Linked DNA regions of Homo sapiens: region 2 is linked to region 1. The links come from fine-mapping of genetic effects on gene expression. A gene starts in region 1. The other region holds a variant in brackets. All regions are shown on one strand. Distances are from middle to middle. Region 1 holds the start of TRIM52 (tripartite motif containing 52). Region 2 holds the start of RACK1 (receptor for activated C kinase 1).

Region 1 (8,326 bases):
TCACTGGGTCTGAGGCATATGTATGTTTTGTTTTCAGTATGTATTACTTATTATTGTTTAAACCTTGAAATTAAACTTTCTGGCACGTTGGTCATTTCACTTGGGCAGGCTGGACTGGCCCACACCGGGGAGGGGCCTACCGTGAGATGGGGCTGAGAGCAGGGGGCTGTAACCTGGGCCTTGGGAGTCAACCCCAGCTCTCTCCTGACCTTCTCCCATCCTGGTCCCCCGTCTCCTGTCCTCAGGGAAGGTACCGATGCAGGGAACTCAGGAGCAGGGTGTTTTGATCTTCACTCTGATTAGGGGAAGAACCTGAGCTCAGTCTCCTTCTCCCACCACCTGCCTGGCCTGAAATTCCCACAAACCTAGGAGCCCTTTGGAATTGATGATGATGCATGCAGGGGCCCTCTCTCCTACTGCAGCCAGAGATTGGATGGACAGAGGGGCCAGGCCACTCCACCTCGTGTCCTCTCCCTGGTGCATGGGCCGGGAAGAGTGAAGGGGCTGTGTGCTTAAGGCCTAGCGCTGCAGAGGCTCCGAGAAAACCAGCTCCAGCCCCTGCTCCTCTCAGCCTCATCTAATTTACGGCCAGGCAGGGCAGGGGTTCTGTCTCTTGGGGCCGAGACCCTGGGAGCCTGCAGGACCCTGCCCGCAATGCACTGCAGCTCACTCCCTCTAGCCCTCTTCCGTGTTTTCCCAGGCCAGGACCAACAGTGCCTTCCCCCGAGTTAGTCTCAGTGAGCTACTGCCAAGAGCAATTCAGTGCACAGCCACACTTCTCCCTAACCTAGAGCCCACTCCTCCTCTGCCAGCAGCATTGCCCCGGGCCTCCTCCCCGTTAAAGACTGTGGAGAGGAGGAGCCTAGAGAGCCCTAGCTGAGGCTGTCAAACCCTCGGCGTGGGCAGCTGGCAGGTTGACCCCTGACCCCGGCTTTTTGCCTTGAGGGGAGGCTGTGTGGTTCGTTCGCTGGTGTGACAGCGCAGGGCAAGGAGAAGGTGAGAAGACGCAGGGAGGCAGCGTGGGCCGCAGTCACACTTCTGCTACACCCACATCTGTGAGCTTCTCCACAAAGAGGAGAAAGAAGACAAGGCTAGGGTTGGGCCTTCCCCTTGGCTTTTTTTTTTTTTTTTTTTTTTTTTGAGATGGAGTCTCTCTGTCGCCCAGGCTGGAGTGCAGTGGCGCCATCTCGGCTCGCTGCCAGCTCTACCTCCCGGGTTCACGCCATTCTCCTGCCTCAGCCTCCCAAGTAGCTGGGACTACAGGCGCCTGCCACCACACCCAGCTAATTTTTTGTATTTTTAGTAGAGACGGGGTTTCACCGTGTTAGCCAGGATGGTCTCAATCTCCTGACCTCGTGATCTGCCCGCCTCCGTCTCCTAAAGTGCTGGGATTACAGTCATAAGCCACTGTGCCTGGCCAGGATTTTTTTTTTTTAAGATTGCATGTTGTTCTGTTGCCCAGGCTGAGGGCAGTGGCACCATCACTGCTTACTGCAGCCTTGACCTCCTGGGCTCAAATGATCCTCCCAATTCAGCCTCCCAAGTAGCTGGAACTACAGGCGCACACCATCACACGCAGGTAATTTTTAATTTTTTTAATTTATTTTTATTATTTTTGAGATGGAGTCTCACTCTGTTGCCCAGGCTGGAGTGCAGCAGCATGATCTTGGCTCACTGCAACCTCCACCTCCTAGGTTCACGCAATTCTTCCTCAGCCTCGCAAGTAGCTGGGATTACAGGCACCTGCCGCCACGCCTGGCTAATTTTTGTATTTTTAGTAGTGACGGGGTTTCACCATGTTGGCCAGGCTGGTCTCAAACTCCTGACCTCAAGTGATCCACCCGCCTCAGCCTCCAAAATTGCTGGGATTACAGACATGAGCCACCGCACCCAGCCAATTTTCTTTTTTTTTTTTTTTGTGGAGATGGGGTCTCATGACGTTGCCCAGGCTGGTCTCAAACAGCTGGCTCAAACAATCCTCCCATCTTGGCCTCTTAAAGCACTGGGATTACATGAGTGAGGCACCACACCTGGCCAAGAATTTCCTTAAAGCCTATGAAGTGGTGAGCCTTTCATTTCATGTGGAAGGTTCTGGTGGCTGCAGGATGGCCTGAAATGAGAGAGCAAGTGATCCTTTAGAGAAATGGTTTCCTTTTATCCAGTCTGAAGCTGATGGGGGTGAAATCTGGAGTGGCAGAAGTAAGGCTGGAAAGGAGGAGCTAGATCGGAGGAGAAACATCAGCAGGACTTGGCTGAAATGTGTTGGGTTTGTTCATTCGTTTATTTACTCAGCAGATACACAGGGAGTGCTCGCTGTGTGCTTGGCACTGTGGTCAAGGAACTGAGTATGCAACAAAGAAGAGAACACATACAGTCCTTGCTCTGTGCCACTCACAGTTTGGCACAGGTCCGGAGAGGAAGAGGAGGGCTCCAAGGTGTGCTCAAGGTTCCACTGGGACAGTGGTGTCCTCCCCAAACCAATGACCAATTAGTGAGGGGTGCAGTCATGCCCGTGGGCCTTCAACAGCATTTTACTGAAATAAAACAGAAAATATCAGAGTGCTTTGGATGTCATAAGGGAAAGAACACTGCAGAAATTTTCTTTCTGTTATATATGTGCAGGTCTATATTGGATCAGTATGTGCAATGTACTTCTTATTGAAGGGCAGGTAAAGAAAGAAAAAAAACCTTGTATGGGGCTGAGCGTAGTGGCTCACATCTGTAATTCCCGCACTTTGTAAGGCTGAGGCAGGACTGCTTAAACCAGGAGTTCAAGACTAGCCTGGGCAACATAGCAGGACCTCATCTCTACAAAAAAAAAAATAATAAAAATTAGCCAGATGTGGTAATGCACACCTGTAGTCCCAGCTACTTGGGAGGCTGAGGCAGGATGATCACTTGAGCCCAGGGGTCAAGGGTGCAATGAGCCATGATCATACCACTGCATTTGGCCTGGGCAACAGAGCAAGACCCTCTCTCAAAAAAAAAAAAAATCTAAAAGAGAATGGGTAAATCAGGCATAGTGGTGCATGCCTGTAGTCCCAGCTACTCCACAGGCTGAGGCGGGAGGATCACTTGAGTCCAGGAGTTTGAGGTGGTAGGGTGCAATAATCGTGACTATAAATAGCCACGGCACTTTAGCCTGGGCAACATGACGAAACCCTGTCTCTATAAAAAAATAAAGAAATTAGCCTGGAGTGGTGGTGCATGCCTGTGTTCCCAGCTATTCCAGAAGCTGAAGTGGGAGGACTGCTTGAGCCCAGGAGGTGGAGATTGCTGTGGGCCCAGATCGTGCCACTGCAGGGGGCTACAGGAGTCTAAAAGGGAGGGGACACAATTTCCCCAAATCTCCAATGTTGAGGAGTTCTGCCTACACTCCTTGCCCCAGGATGCCCCCAGCACCAAGGCCAAGAGGGTGTCTTGGCCCTCAGCACTGGGGTAGAACATCTGTACACAGAACCAGGCCACAGGAGAAGGCATACACAGAGCCCATGAGCACCAGCCCCTCTGAGCTGCGTCCAGCCCCCATCTCCATCCTCTGTTCTCTGGGACTACAAATCCAGGCCTGACCTGGTTCTATCCCTACCTGCAGAGACAGAAGACAGAAGGAGACAACCCCTGAGAAGCCTTTCCCCAGGGCCTGATTCCCCCTCCCACTGTAAGATCTCTCAGCCCGCACTTTGGGAGGCCGAGGTGGGCGGATCACGAGGTCAGGAAATCGAGACCATCCTGGCTAACAGGGTGAAACCCCGTTTCTACTAAAAATACAAAAAAAAAAAAATTAGCCGGGCGTGGTGGCGGGCGCCTGTAGTCCCAGCTACTCGGGAGGCTGAGGCAGGAGAGTGGCGTGAACCTGGGAGGCGGAGCTTGCAGTGAGCCGAGATCGCGCCACTGCACTGCATCCTGGGCAACAGCCAGACTCCATCTCAAAAAAAAAAAAAAAAAAAAAAACCTCTCAGCCCTGGATCAGGTCCCCTCTCCAGGAAAGGTGACAGAGTGGAGTCTAAATGACACTGCCCTAGGGCCCCGCTGGGGTGGAAAACAGACCCAGACAGCGCCCCCAGCCCTCCCTCCCCAGGGAGGAGTGAAGGGCATAACAGACAGCGGAGGACACCGGGACAGGAAGGAGGGGCCAGCCGCTCTCAAACTAAGTCTAAACCACGGCGGTGAGGAAGTGTGGTCCCAAATCCAGCCCCCTCCCGGCCGAGCTCACAGAGCTCAGGGCTGGAACTCGGAACCCTGGCCCGACGCAGGCGGCAGCACCGAAGGGAACTTGAGCCCCGGCCCCCTCAGGGGACCCACGACCGGGGCGCAGCTTTGCTGGCAGACGCCGCAATACTGCGCAGCCGCGGCCCCGCAAGCAGAAACAGGGCTGGGTCTGAGGCCTACGTGGAGCTGGGGCCCGACGGCTCACGGAAGGCAGCGGGGGGCACTGGGCGCCCCGGATCCGAGCCTCCCGGGCGGCAGGCCCTCCCAGCTGTGCGGCGCCCGGATCCCCACAAAGGCACCCCAAGCGCGGACGGCGGGACGGGCGACAGCACCAGGGTGGTGTCCCAGGCTTCCCCACCGCCGCGGACCAACTCGGCCCCGGCCCGGGCGGGGCTTCCGGAGAGATTTATCCCCCTTCCCTCTAACCTTCCTGGGGCTCCGGCTCAGGCTGGACAACGGCTCGGAGACCCAGTCCCCCTCAAGTGTTGACCCCCCCACCATCTAGAACCAGCCAACCCACCAAACCACCTCTCCCAAGCCGGGCCTCTTCCCGGCGTCCGCCGCTGACCTGATCAGAGCCGCTCTGCCGGCCCGAGGGAGCTGAGAAGGGGCTTGGGAATGGGGTCTTGAGGAGGGGCTGGCCGGAATGTGCAGCACTAGCCCAGCTGGAGCGGGCGGCGCGGGCGCGCCTGTCCCCCAGCCCACCCAACTCCCGGCCCGCGCGGCCCCCGGCACACCATAGAGACGTGGTCCTCCGCCGGCCTAGAGCGTCTCTCCAGAGCGTGTGCAGGAGCGAGACGTCATTTTGCGTCGCCTCGGGCAGGGTAGCCAGCGGCTGCATCTGAGGCGGACGCCGCAGTGTAGGGCACACCCTGAGGGTAGCGAGAGACGTGACAGGACCGAGCAGCTGGGGGCTGCAGCCTGCTCTGTCCCCACCGATCCCAGAGAGAGGCTGTGAGTCTGGATCTGGGCGTTCGCACCCTGAGAGAGGGGGTCAAAGCTCCCCTGCGGCCCCGAGGAAGAAGAGCAAGGTTGAGGACAGCCTCGGGTCACCAGAGTAGTTTGGAGGCAGGCCTGCAGGCGCGTCCCCGCTCCTCAGCTCCAAGCTGACGTATCTACACCTGCCGGCGGGCATTAAGATGGCTGGTTATGCCACTACTCCCAGCCCCATGCAGACCCTTCAGGAGGAAGCGGTGTGTGCCATCTGCTTGGATTACTTCAAGGACCCCGTGTCCATCAGCTGTGGGCACAACTTCTGCCGAGGGTGTGTGACCCAGCTGTGGAGTAAGGAGGACGAGGAGGACCAGAACGAGGAGGAAGATGAATGGGAGGAGGAGGAGGACGAGGAAGCGGTGGGGGCCATGGATGGATGGGACGGCTCCATTCGAGAGGTGTTGTATCGGGGGAATGCTGACGAAGAGTTGTTCCAAGACCAAGATGACGATGAACTCTGGCTCGGTGACAGTGGTATAACTAATTGGGACAACGTAGACTATATGTGGGACGAGGAGGAAGAAGAAGAAGAGGAAGATCAGGACTATTACCTAGGAGGCTTGAGACCTGACCTGAGAATTGATGTCTACCGAGAAGAAGAAATACTGGAAGCATACGATGAGGACGAAGATGAAGAGCTGTATCCTGACATCCACCCGCCTCCTTCCTTGCCCCTTCCAGGGCAGTTCACCTGCCCCCAGTGCCGAAAGAGCTTTACACGTCGCAGCTTTCGTCCCAACTTGCAGCTGGCCAACATGGTCCAGATAATTCGCCAGATGTGCCCCACTCCTTATCGGGGAAACCGGAGTAATGATCAGGGCATGTGCTTTAAACACCAGGAAGCCCTGAAACTCTTCTGTGAGGTGGACAAAGAGGCCATCTGTGTGGTGTGCCGAGAATCCAGGAGCCACAAACAGCACAGCGTGCTGCCTTTGGAGGAGGTGGTGCAGGAGTACCAGGTGAGAGAAATGAGGGAATGTGGGGGGATGAAGGGAGTGGAAAGGTAACTAGGAGAGCTGAGGAATGAGTAGCATTCCTTTCCCACCTCCTCAGGTACTTAGTTGCTAAACTTCTCTTTATTTGATGAGGGAGACACGGTGGAGAGAGATGGTCATATGGGTAAAAAAGGAGACACAAAACCATGAAGATTGGGGCAGATTGGCTTCCCCAGAGGAAGCTGAACAGATAATATGACGGTCACTGGAAGCGGACCACTACTGCTAATACTGGCAGTCTACCTAAGTGTAAGGGACGTGAGTAACAGATACCCAGTACTTCATTTCTCCCTAATGTGAGTCCTTGACCAATTCCCTGGGACAGGTACAGATAGGAATAGAAAGCCACAGTACTTGGAGATAATAGACATTTGGGACCTCAGCACAAGCAGTGTCAAAATAGATGTATTGGTAGACAGAAATGCCAGATGTGAGTCCTAAACTACTGATAGCAATTGGCCACACCCCCCCTCTGAAAGTCTGGGATTGCATCTCTACCTTCAGTGGGGTCCGTTTTCCTTCTAGAGAAAGGCAAAGCATATAAGCATCTTTGATGGATCAGAATGTGCCTCATATCCTGATCACTTTTCTTTCCTGGTATTTTATCATAGTGGAAGGAGTGCGGGATTTAGGATCAGATGACCTGGCTCTGCCACTTACTGTCTAGTCTTGGGCAGGTGTCAACCTCCTTGAGCTTCACTTTTTCCCTAGGATTGTAAGGATTAAAAGAGATCATATATGTTAACCATAAAGCACTAAACAAATGTTTGCTGTTTTATTTGGCTTTCTTGTAACTTGTCTTCCCTTGTTTGGGTGCTGATATGGTTAATGCCTTGCTTTCTAGTCTTGACTTCTAAGCATTAGATAATTGTCTCAATGACAATGAGCATGAGTACCATCTTCCTTACCAAAAGTCTAGGTAGATTTGACTCCTAGCAGTGCCCAAACGAAGGAGAGGTTGTCTTCAGGCCCATAAAGGTTGACCTGGATATGCAGCAGCCGCTGCTCACGTCTTAGTAGTGCTTTACAGTTTATAAAATATATTTCCTCGTGTTCTCCTATAGCAGTGGTTTTCAAATTGTTTTTTGACCAATTAGTGTGTCTTAAAATAAATGGGTCATGCCTAGCATTATCTCAAAATGAAGTAAGAGAAAATATTAGAACACATGGAACATAGTAAGGGTAAGTACTGCTTTATGAAACTTTTAAGTTATATATATATACATGTATATACTTCATCTAAAAATATATTGCTTTCTTTGAGTTGCAGTCAAAACACAAACACAGAGCACTGTCCTACAGGCTTCATGTATTAGATATTATTATCACCCCCCTGCCCCCATTTTATAGCAAATATTGGGAAGTGCACAGTTAAGGCACAAATCTAACCATAAGTCACTGCTACCTCTGTTACATTAACCTGACTTGAAGGACAAATCCTAGTACCATGTTTTCACCCAAGGTGATAACTAAAGTATCCCATGGAAAAAACTTATGTCCTATGCTTCTGGGTTTTAGTATACTGAAGCTGAGGAAAAGAGAGAACCTTCCATTTCTCTTCTAACTTTTTTTTTTGAGACGGTATCTTGCTCTGTTGCCCAGGCAGAAGTGCAATGGCATGATCTCGGCTCACTGCAACCTCCGTTTCCCGGGTTCAAGCGATCCTCCTGCCTCAGCACCCCTAGTAGTTGCGATTACAGGCACATGCCACCATGCCCAGCTAATTTTGCATTTTTAGTAGAGATGGGGTTTCACCATGTTGGCCAGGCTGGTCTTGAACTCCTGACCTCAGGAGATCCACCACCTGGGCCTCCCAAAGTGCTGGGATTACAGGCATGAGCCACTGTGCCCAGCCTTCCTCAGCTAACTTTTATCATCATCCCCTTCCCCCATTTTATAGTAAATATTGTTAAGTGCACAGTTAAGACACAAATCTTTTTTTATTTTTATTTATTTATTTATTTACTTATTTATTTGAGCTGGAGTCTCGCTCTGTCATCAGGCTAGAGTGCAGTGGTGCGATCTCGGCTCACTGCAACCTACGCCTCCCGAGTTCAAGCGATTTTCCTGCCTCAGCCTCCCAAGTAGCTGGGAATACAGGTGCGCACCACCATGCCCAGCTAATTTTT
Region 2 (8,326 bases), 21 kb after region 1:
GATTGGCAGTCTAGCAACACACAGGGCAATTTTTACTTTATTATTTTATTGTATGTATGTATTTATTTATTTGAGTCGGAGTCTCGCTCTGCTGCCCAGGCTGGAGTGCAGTGGCGCGATCTCGGTTCACTGCAACCTCCGCCTCTCAGGTTCAAGGGATTCTCCTGCCTCAGCCTCCCGAGTAACTGGGATTACAGGCACCCCCCACCACGCCTGGCTAATTTTAATTTTTTTTATTTATTTATTTGGAAAGAGGTTGCATCATGTTGGCCAGGCTAGTCTTGAACTCCTGACCTTAAGTGATCCACCCGCCTCGGCCTCTCAAAGTGGTAGGATTACAGGCATGAGCCACCGCGCCCGGGAAAAAGAGACCAATTCTTAGTTCATCCAGAGTAACCCTCTCCTGCCTTAGTCCAGCCTGGACTAAGTCCTTCCGGAGTTGGTGTGCATCAGAACAAAAACCTCGTGAGGGGAGAACACCCTCCGGAAGCACAGTTTTAAAGTTTATTTTTAACATTTTAATACTCTACTTTTTAAATTGCCCATCGTTACCCACGATAGTGAAATGAAAATTAAGCTCCCCTGGGGTTGCCCCGTCAACCCTCCCCGCACCAAGTGGAACAGGCGGAGCTCGAGCTATGCCACATAGGGGCGGGGAAGCAGCCCGGCGGTCCTCATGGGAATGTGCCGTACACTTCACCTCTTTCGCTTCTCGCTCTACATCATCCCTGAGAAGCCTTTTTAAACACTTGAATGTGCTTGTTTCAGAGTGTATTTGTAAAGTGCAGTCAGATTTTGTTGTACGGAAGACGGGACTGTGATGCCTTGCAATTTCCCTCTGCCTTTTGCATTACATGGCGCCGCCATCTTGAGCAGAAATGTATCATGGGGCTCGCCATTTTGCATGGTCGAGCGGGTATTTCCGGTTCCGGCGGGGGGCTTTTCTCTCTCTCTTTCACTGCAAGGCGGCGGCAGGAGAGGTTGTGGTGCTAGTTTCTCTAAGCCATCCAGTGCCATCCTCGTCGCTGCAGCGACACACGCTCTCGCCGCCGCCATGACTGAGCAGATGACCCTTCGTGGCACCCTCAAGGGCCACAACGGCTGGGTAACCCAGATCGCTACTACCCCGCAGTTCCCGGACATGATCCTCTCCGCCTCTCGAGGTACGGACTAAGGTAGATTTCAGGACCCGAGATTGCAGGGCTGGGGGATTCCGCGTGTCGTGTAGGGAATTCCGCGTGTGGTGTGGCAGGCCGGTGGCGCGCGAGTTGGCGGGGACTGACAGACTTCTCTGCCCCATTGTGAATTGGGGCGTGCGGACCCGAGCCTAGGCCTCAACCCGGGCGAACCACATTGCAGATGAGAACCTACGTGTACATCAGCTCGCAGCTGCTAGGAGGGTTGGAGAGTTGGAAACTTTTAAAATATCTTTTGCCTTCTCCTTCGTAGTGTGGCCGGGGGCCTACGGGCCGGGCGGGGCGGTGATGACCCCAACATGCCATCTGAGTGTCGGTGCTGAAATCCAGAGGCTGTTTCTGAGCTGCCGCCCGGCCCAAGGCTCGTGGGGAGGCAGGTGGACTCCAGAGGACCTCGTGGCTCAAGTGTCGGCCTACTTTTTCTGCCCCTGGTTCTCCCCGTCCCTATCCCTGTGTTCCTGACTGCGTTTAGACGCTTCTTGTGCTTCCGCTTTGCTGCTACACTGTTAAGAATTGTCTGACTTTTGAATCATGTCTGGCTGTTAATCGTAAAATTTGTTGAGTGGGACAGGTTTCAGTAAAAGCATCCAATCCTGTAGCGCCTGAAGTGGCTTTTCCAGCATTCATTACTACATTTCTGTCGGCCCTCAGAGGTAGGCATAGGAGGCCCCAGCTACTCTACAGCCACAAACTGCTGTGCATTTGGTTGCAGAGAAGACACAAAGTGGCTGTTGAGTTCGTCTGAGTTTCAGGAAAGGGTGTCTGTATTTCTGGCACCTAAATTAAGTTCTCAGGATACAGGCTGGGCGCGGTGGCTCACGCCTATAATCCCAGCACTTTGGAAGGCAGAGGCGAGTGGATCACTTGAGATCAGGAGTTAGAGACTAGCCTGGCCAATGGTGAAACCGCATCTCTAGTTAAAAAATTAGCCAGACGTGCTGGCAGGTGCCAGCTGGCCAAGTAATCCCAGCTACTTGGGAGGCTGAGGCGGGAGAATTGCTTGAACACGGGAGGTGGAGTTTGGAGTGAGCCGAGATCATGCCACTGCACTCCAGCCTGGGCGACAGAGCGAGACTCCATCTCAAGAAAAAAAAAAGTTATCAGGGTACAGTTTACCTCTACGTGCGTTTTTAGTCTGGAATAGAGCCACTCAGTCCTGGTCTGTAACTGCTCTTGTCTGTTGTTTCCATCCCTCCTTAAGCGTCCTTAGTTGTTGTTAACCCACTCATGACCTTGACACTTAGTGAATTATCCAGTGTGTTAAACGGGCTGCGGGTTCCTCACTGATTTTTCTTCTGTTTTACCTCCTTTAGATAAGACCATCATCATGTGGAAACTGACCAGGGATGAGACCAACTATGGAATTCCACAGCGTGCTCTGCGGGGTCACTCCCACTTTGTTAGTGATGTGGTTATCTCCTCAGATGGCCAGTTTGCCCTCTCAGGCTCCTGGGATGGAACCCTGCGCCTCTGGGATCTCACAACGCAAGTAGCTGCTCACTTAGCTCTGGGGCCTTGGGAAGAATCTGGGCAGAAGTGAGGTGGATGCAATTGGCTGGTTTCCCAGGGGAGATCCAGTCCATTTGGGAACTGGAAAGCAGAGCACACCTACAGAAGATGTTTGGCCTCCCTCACTTTAAATAAGTTACTCAGCATTGCTGAGGAGTGTGGCTGAACATTTTTGCCAGGTGCAAAAGTTCTGAGTGGGCAGCAGTTTGAACATGTTTTACCTTGAAAGCTCAGGTAATTGGCAGGTGGAATTAGAGGGTCCTGGTGATGACAGATGGCATTGTCAGCCAATCCCCAAGTGGGAGTGAGGACATGTCCTGCAATTCTGAAGGGATTCTCTGTCACTTGGCTCTTCTCTTTCATATACTCAGTCACTTGACTCTGTGATCAGAGCCAAATCCAGGGTTGTATGAGTGATGCAATGAGACAGAGACAAAGCCCAGGAAATGAGTCTGACCGTTGAATGAGAGTGTTTGCTAAGTCTGAGAATGACAAACTCCTCCCTCTCAGGGGCACCACCACGAGGCGATTTGTGGGCCATACCAAGGATGTGCTGAGTGTGGCCTTCTCCTCTGACAACCGGCAGATTGTCTCTGGATCTCGAGATAAAACCATCAAGCTATGGAATACCCTGGGTGTGTGCAAATACACTGTCCAGGTAAAGTGAGCCATCTCCAAGGATCTCTTCCACCCTCTTAAACTTTGCTTTTTTTTTTTTTTTTTGGCGACAGTCTCACTCTTGCCCAAGCTGGAGTGCAGTGGCGCAGTCTCGGCTCACTGCAACCTCTGCCTCCCGGGCTCAAGGGATTCTGGTGCCTCAGTCTCCCGAGTAGCTGGTACTACAGGTGCGCAGCCACCACGCCTAGCTAATTTTTTGTGTTTTAGTAGAGACAGGGTTTCACCATGTTGCCCAGGGTGGTCTCAAACTCCTGGGCTCAGGCGATTTGCCTGCCTCGCCCTCCCAAAGTGTTGGGATTACAGGCGTGAGCCCCCACCTGCCTATCTTTGCCTTTTTTTTTTTTTTTCTCGGAGACAGTTTCGCTTGTTCCCCAGGCTGAAGTACAATGGCGTGATCTCGGCTGACCACAACCTCCGCCTCCTGGGTTCAAGCAGTTCTCCTGCCTCAGCCTCCCAAGTAGCTGGGATTAGAGGCATGCGCCACCATGCCCGGTTTTGTATTTTTAGTAGAGACAGGGTTTCTCCATGTTGGTCAGGCTGGTCTTGAACTCCCAACCTCAGGTGATCTGCCCGCCTCAGCCTCCCAAAGTGCTGGGATTATAAGCGTGAGCCACCGTCCCCCGCTTTCTTTGCCTTTTTAAAGTCTTGTCTGGGCTGGGCTCACGCCTGTAATCCTAGCTCTCTGGTAGGCCAAGGTGGGAGGACTGCTTGAGGACAGGAGAGCAGCCTGGCCAACATAGTGAGACCCCATCTATTTAAACAAAATTTTATTTATTTTTTTTCTTTTTTGAGATGGATTCTGGGCTAGATCGCAGATTTGGGATCGCAGATTGGGGGCTGGATCGGGGATTTGGGGATGGGTGGGGGGCGGTGAAAAGGTGAAAGGGAGTTGCCGCAGCTCAGAAGCCGATGGTTGGGTGTCTGAGAAGATTACAGGCGTGTGCCATCATGCCCAGCTAATTTTTGTATTTTTAGTAGAGATGGGGTTTCACCATGTTGGCCAGGCTGGTCTCAAACTCCTGACCTCAGGTGATCCGCCCGCCTCAGCCTCCCAAACTGCTGTGATAACAGGCGTGAGTCACCGTGCCCGGCCTTATCACTACTATTTTGTTTTGTTTTGAGACAGTCTCATTCTGTCGCCCAGGCTGGAGTGCAGT[A/G]GTGCGATCTCGGCTCACTGCAAGCTCTGCTTCCCGGGTTCACGCCATTCTCCTGCCTCAGCCTCCCGAGTCGCTGGGACTACAGGCGCCTGCCATCAGGTCTGGCTAATTTTTTGTATTTTTAGTAGAGACAGGGTTTCACCATGTTAGCCAAGATGGTCTTGATCTCCTGACCTCATGATCCATCCACCTTGGCTTCCTAAAGTGCTGGGATTACAGGCGTGAGCCACCACACCAGGCCCTATTATTATTATTATATTTTTTTTGGAGATGAAGTTTCACTTGTTCGTTGCCCAGGCTGGAGTGCAATGGCACAATCTTGGCTCATTGCACCCTTCGCTTCCTGGGTTTAAGCAGTGTTCCTGCCTGAGCCTCCCCAGTAGCTGGGATTACAGGCACCCGCCGCCACACCTGGTTAATTTTTGTATTTTTGGTAGAGACAGGGTTTCACCATTTTGGCCAGGCTGGTCTCAAACTCCTGACCTCAGGTGATCCACTTACCTCGCCCTCCCTGGGATTAGAGGCGTGAGCTTCTGCGTCCAGCCACCATCTCTAAATTTTTAAAAAATTTTCTTGTCTGGAATCTAAAGGGATTCTATTGAGCTTAAAGGTTTGGGTTCTTGGTTTTTGAAAGGTGCTGCCAGCCATCATCCTACTGAGGGGTAGGGCTGGGAGGTCTAGCATTTCATGGGATAGGACTGTTTGCCCTAATTTCCTTTCCATCTTCTGTAGGATGAGAGCCACTCAGAGTGGGTGTCTTGTGTCCGCTTCTCGCCCAACAGCAGCAACCCTATCATCGTCTCCTGTGGCTGGGACAAGCTGGTCAAGGTGAGCGTCAAGCCAAGGCAGGGGCTTTACCAGTCAGGGTGTGCTCCCAGGTGGTCATACACTCCAAGTCCTGTGGAAAGCTTTGCAGATGCCCTCAGTTGACTCTTTCTCTTGTCACATGGTCTGATGTCCCTTGTAAGTCAGCACACTGCATTGGATATGTGTTATAATCTAACGTGAAGTGGCCAGGACATGTTACTGAATGAGAAATGGCTACCGTATCCAGAAGTGCCAAGCCCTTTTTTGTTGGGCCTGACCCTAGCTCATCAAGAGCTAGGATGTTCACCTGTCAACCGCACGTCTATGCAGGTATGGAACCTGGCTAACTGCAAGCTGAAGACCAACCACATTGGCCACACAGGCTATCTGAACACGGTGACTGTCTCTCCAGATGGATCCCTCTGTGCTTCTGGAGGCAAGGTATTTGGGGACAAGGCGTCTCCTACTCAGTGGAAGACAGCGTCATGGAAGGAGCACTTAGCCAGCGTCTCTAACGTAAAATGGCAAACATTAGCCAAGATGGTTTTAGGAGGATAATGAGATAATGGCAATCTGAGAATATGTTTCCAAAGATTACTTTCAGCAAATGACAGTTAAGGCATACTATCTGGAAGAAAAAGATGATTTTCTATAAGCCTGTGGGTTTTTTTTGTTGTTTTTTTGTTTGTTTGTTTTTTGTTTTTTTTTTGAGACGGAGTCTCACTCGGCTGCCAAGGCTGGAGTGCAGTGGCGCGATCTCGGCTCACTGCAACCATCTCCCGGGTTCAAGCAATTCTCCCATCTCAGCCTCCCGAGTAGCTAGGATTACAGGCACCCGCCATCACTCCTGGGTAATTTTTGTATGTTAGTAGAGAGGATTTTACCATGTTGGCCAGGCTGGTCTTGAACTCCTGACCTCAGGTGATCCGCCCACCTCGGCTTCCCAAAGTGCTGGGATTACAGGCATGAGCCACCGCACCCAGCCTAAAGTTGGTTTCTTGAAGCAGTTGATGAGATTGGGATCCTGGTTTTCAGAAATGATTGGAGTGATTTATGTAAGTTGGGAGGGGTTTTTTGATGGGGTTGGTAAGGTCTTACGTTAAAGGAAAGGTATACAGAGATAAATATTGGTACTTGAGTCATTAGCTTTCAAAGAAGCCTGGGGTAATGGAGGAAAGGTAAGAATTGATTCTGACAGAATCTTGAGATGGGCAGAATTAACATCTGGAAGAGGTCACAGTGTCCTGATTTACCTTACCTGTGTCCAGGATGGCCAGGCCATGTTATGGGATCTCAACGAAGGCAAACACCTTTACACGCTAGATGGTGGGGACATCATCAACGCCCTGTGCTTCAGCCCTAACCGCTACTGGCTGTGTGCTGCCACAGGCCCCAGCATCAAGATCTGGGTGAGTGTGGGTTACAATTGACTGGGTACCTGGCTGCACTCTGAGCCCTGGCAATGTTTTGGTTATTATATATGCCATCTGACTCCCACCTGGGAGCTAAGCTTTCTCAGCCTCCACGTAATGACATTTTGGTCTGAGTAACTCTGTTGTGGTGTGCAGTCCTGTACATTCCAGGATGTTTAGCAGCATTTCCAGCTTCTACTAGATGTCAGTAGCAAACCATCCTTCCACTAGTGGCAACTGAAAATGCATGTAGGCATTGATACATGGACCCCAGGGAGCAAAATCATCCCTTTTTAACTTGAGAATCTTGAGGGGCTTTTAAGAGGAGACTCTCTTGATTGGTAAGTCTTAAGGTTGCTTTTGCCCTGTTCCCCAGGATTTAGAGGGAAAGATCATTGTAGATGAACTGAAGCAAGAAGTTATCAGTACCAGCAGCAAGGCAGAACCACCCCAGTGCACCTCCCTGGCCTGGTCTGCTGATGGCCAGGTAAGTGGGTCTGTCCTCTCAGGTGATTCTGCTTCCAGTTAATTTTCTCCCTCTCATTCTGTTAGTATATCTAGTCTGTCAGACACAAGAGCAGTGTCCTTGGCATAAAGTGAAATGACAAGCCAGGTTGATGAGGATGCCCTCGTTTGCCATGCCAGTGAATGTGTTTCTGCATCAGAGGGAAGACTGATGTGGAACGCAGTGGCTGTCAGCCTTCAATTAATACCTTAATTAATCTGACCAGTTTTCAAATGTCTGGAGCCTTATCACCAGCTGTTTCTTCCTCAAGGAATACATAACCACCACTTACAAGCTGGCTGTTGAAATGAGAGCGGTTTCTTACAGTCTACCCGGCGTTGTGGCACATGCCTACTGGAGGCTGAGGTGGGAGGATCTCTTGAACTGCAGGGGCTTAAGGCTGTAGTGAGCCAGGATCGCACCCCTGCACTCCAGCCTAGACAATGGAGCAAGGTGGACGGATCTCAAAAAAAGCCACTTGGGCTGAATCTAGTGAGACTGCAGAATTTATGCCAGCCTGACCTGTCACTGTCATTTCTTCCCTGCAGACTCTGTTTGCTGGCTACACGGACAACCTGGTGCGAGTGTGGCAGGTGACCATTGGCACACGCTAGAAGTTTATGGCAGAGCTTTACAAATAAAAAAAAAACTGGCTTTTCTGACTTTTAGGTTTTTTTTTCTTATATGCAAAAAAGCTCCATTCTATCTACATTGCTTACACATTAAGTTTGCACTAGCGAACTGGATGCAAGGTATGGACTAAGTAAACAAGGCTTTGAAGGGGAGCTGTCCGTCTAAGTTCTCAGGATTGGGGTAGCATCAGGTGGGATGTTTGTGAGAAGTCACATAGCAGTTTCCCTGAACTTAAACCCCATCAGCGTCCTACATACCACGTGCAGATCATCAGGGCCTACCTTCAACCTGGGGAACCTTCTTGAGGGAAAGAACTGATTTCAAAGTGGTTGCAGTCAATTTTTAGAAAAAGCAGACTCCGCAGGTCCAACCCCTGACACGTAAGAGTGGAAGATGAATCCTCATTCCTCTAAAGATTTGAACATAATT

What was found.
Region 2: its variant is fine-mapped to the expression of TRIM52 in whole blood (TOPMed, PIP above 0.99).

Annotation. Positions count from the first base shown.
Region 1 is chr5:181,257,836-181,266,161 of GRCh38, reverse strand. TRIM52 (tripartite motif containing 52) reads left to right here and starts at 5,019. Exons shown (of 2, transcript NM_001346048.2): 1 at 5,019-6,161. The coding sequence starts at 5,349. It overlaps TRIM52-AS1 (TRIM52 antisense RNA 1), which reads right to left and starts at 4,950. Exons shown (of 3, transcript NR_102762.1): 1 at 4,778-4,950. RefSeq lists enhancers at 71-688, 689-1,307, 5,039-5,088, 5,269-5,318 and silencers at 4,389-4,638, 4,749-4,898.
Region 2 is chr5:181,236,529-181,244,854 of GRCh38, reverse strand. It overlaps RACK1 (receptor for activated C kinase 1), which reads left to right and starts at 949. Exons shown (of 8, transcript NM_006098.5): 1 at 949-1,163; 2 at 2,510-2,681; 3 at 3,216-3,363; 4 at 5,273-5,368; 5 at 5,678-5,788; 6 at 6,616-6,756; 7 at 7,136-7,246; 8 at 7,813-7,958. The coding sequence starts at 1,055. The coding sequence ends at 7,878. It overlaps SNORD96A (small nucleolar RNA, C/D box 96A), which reads left to right and starts at 2,966; the gene lies at 2,966-3,037. SNORD95 (small nucleolar RNA, C/D box 95) reads left to right here and starts at 1,479; the gene lies at 1,479-1,541. RefSeq lists enhancers at 705-774, 855-994, 1,095-1,154, 3,286-3,335. The variant A/G (reference allele first, on the strand shown) is at 4,541.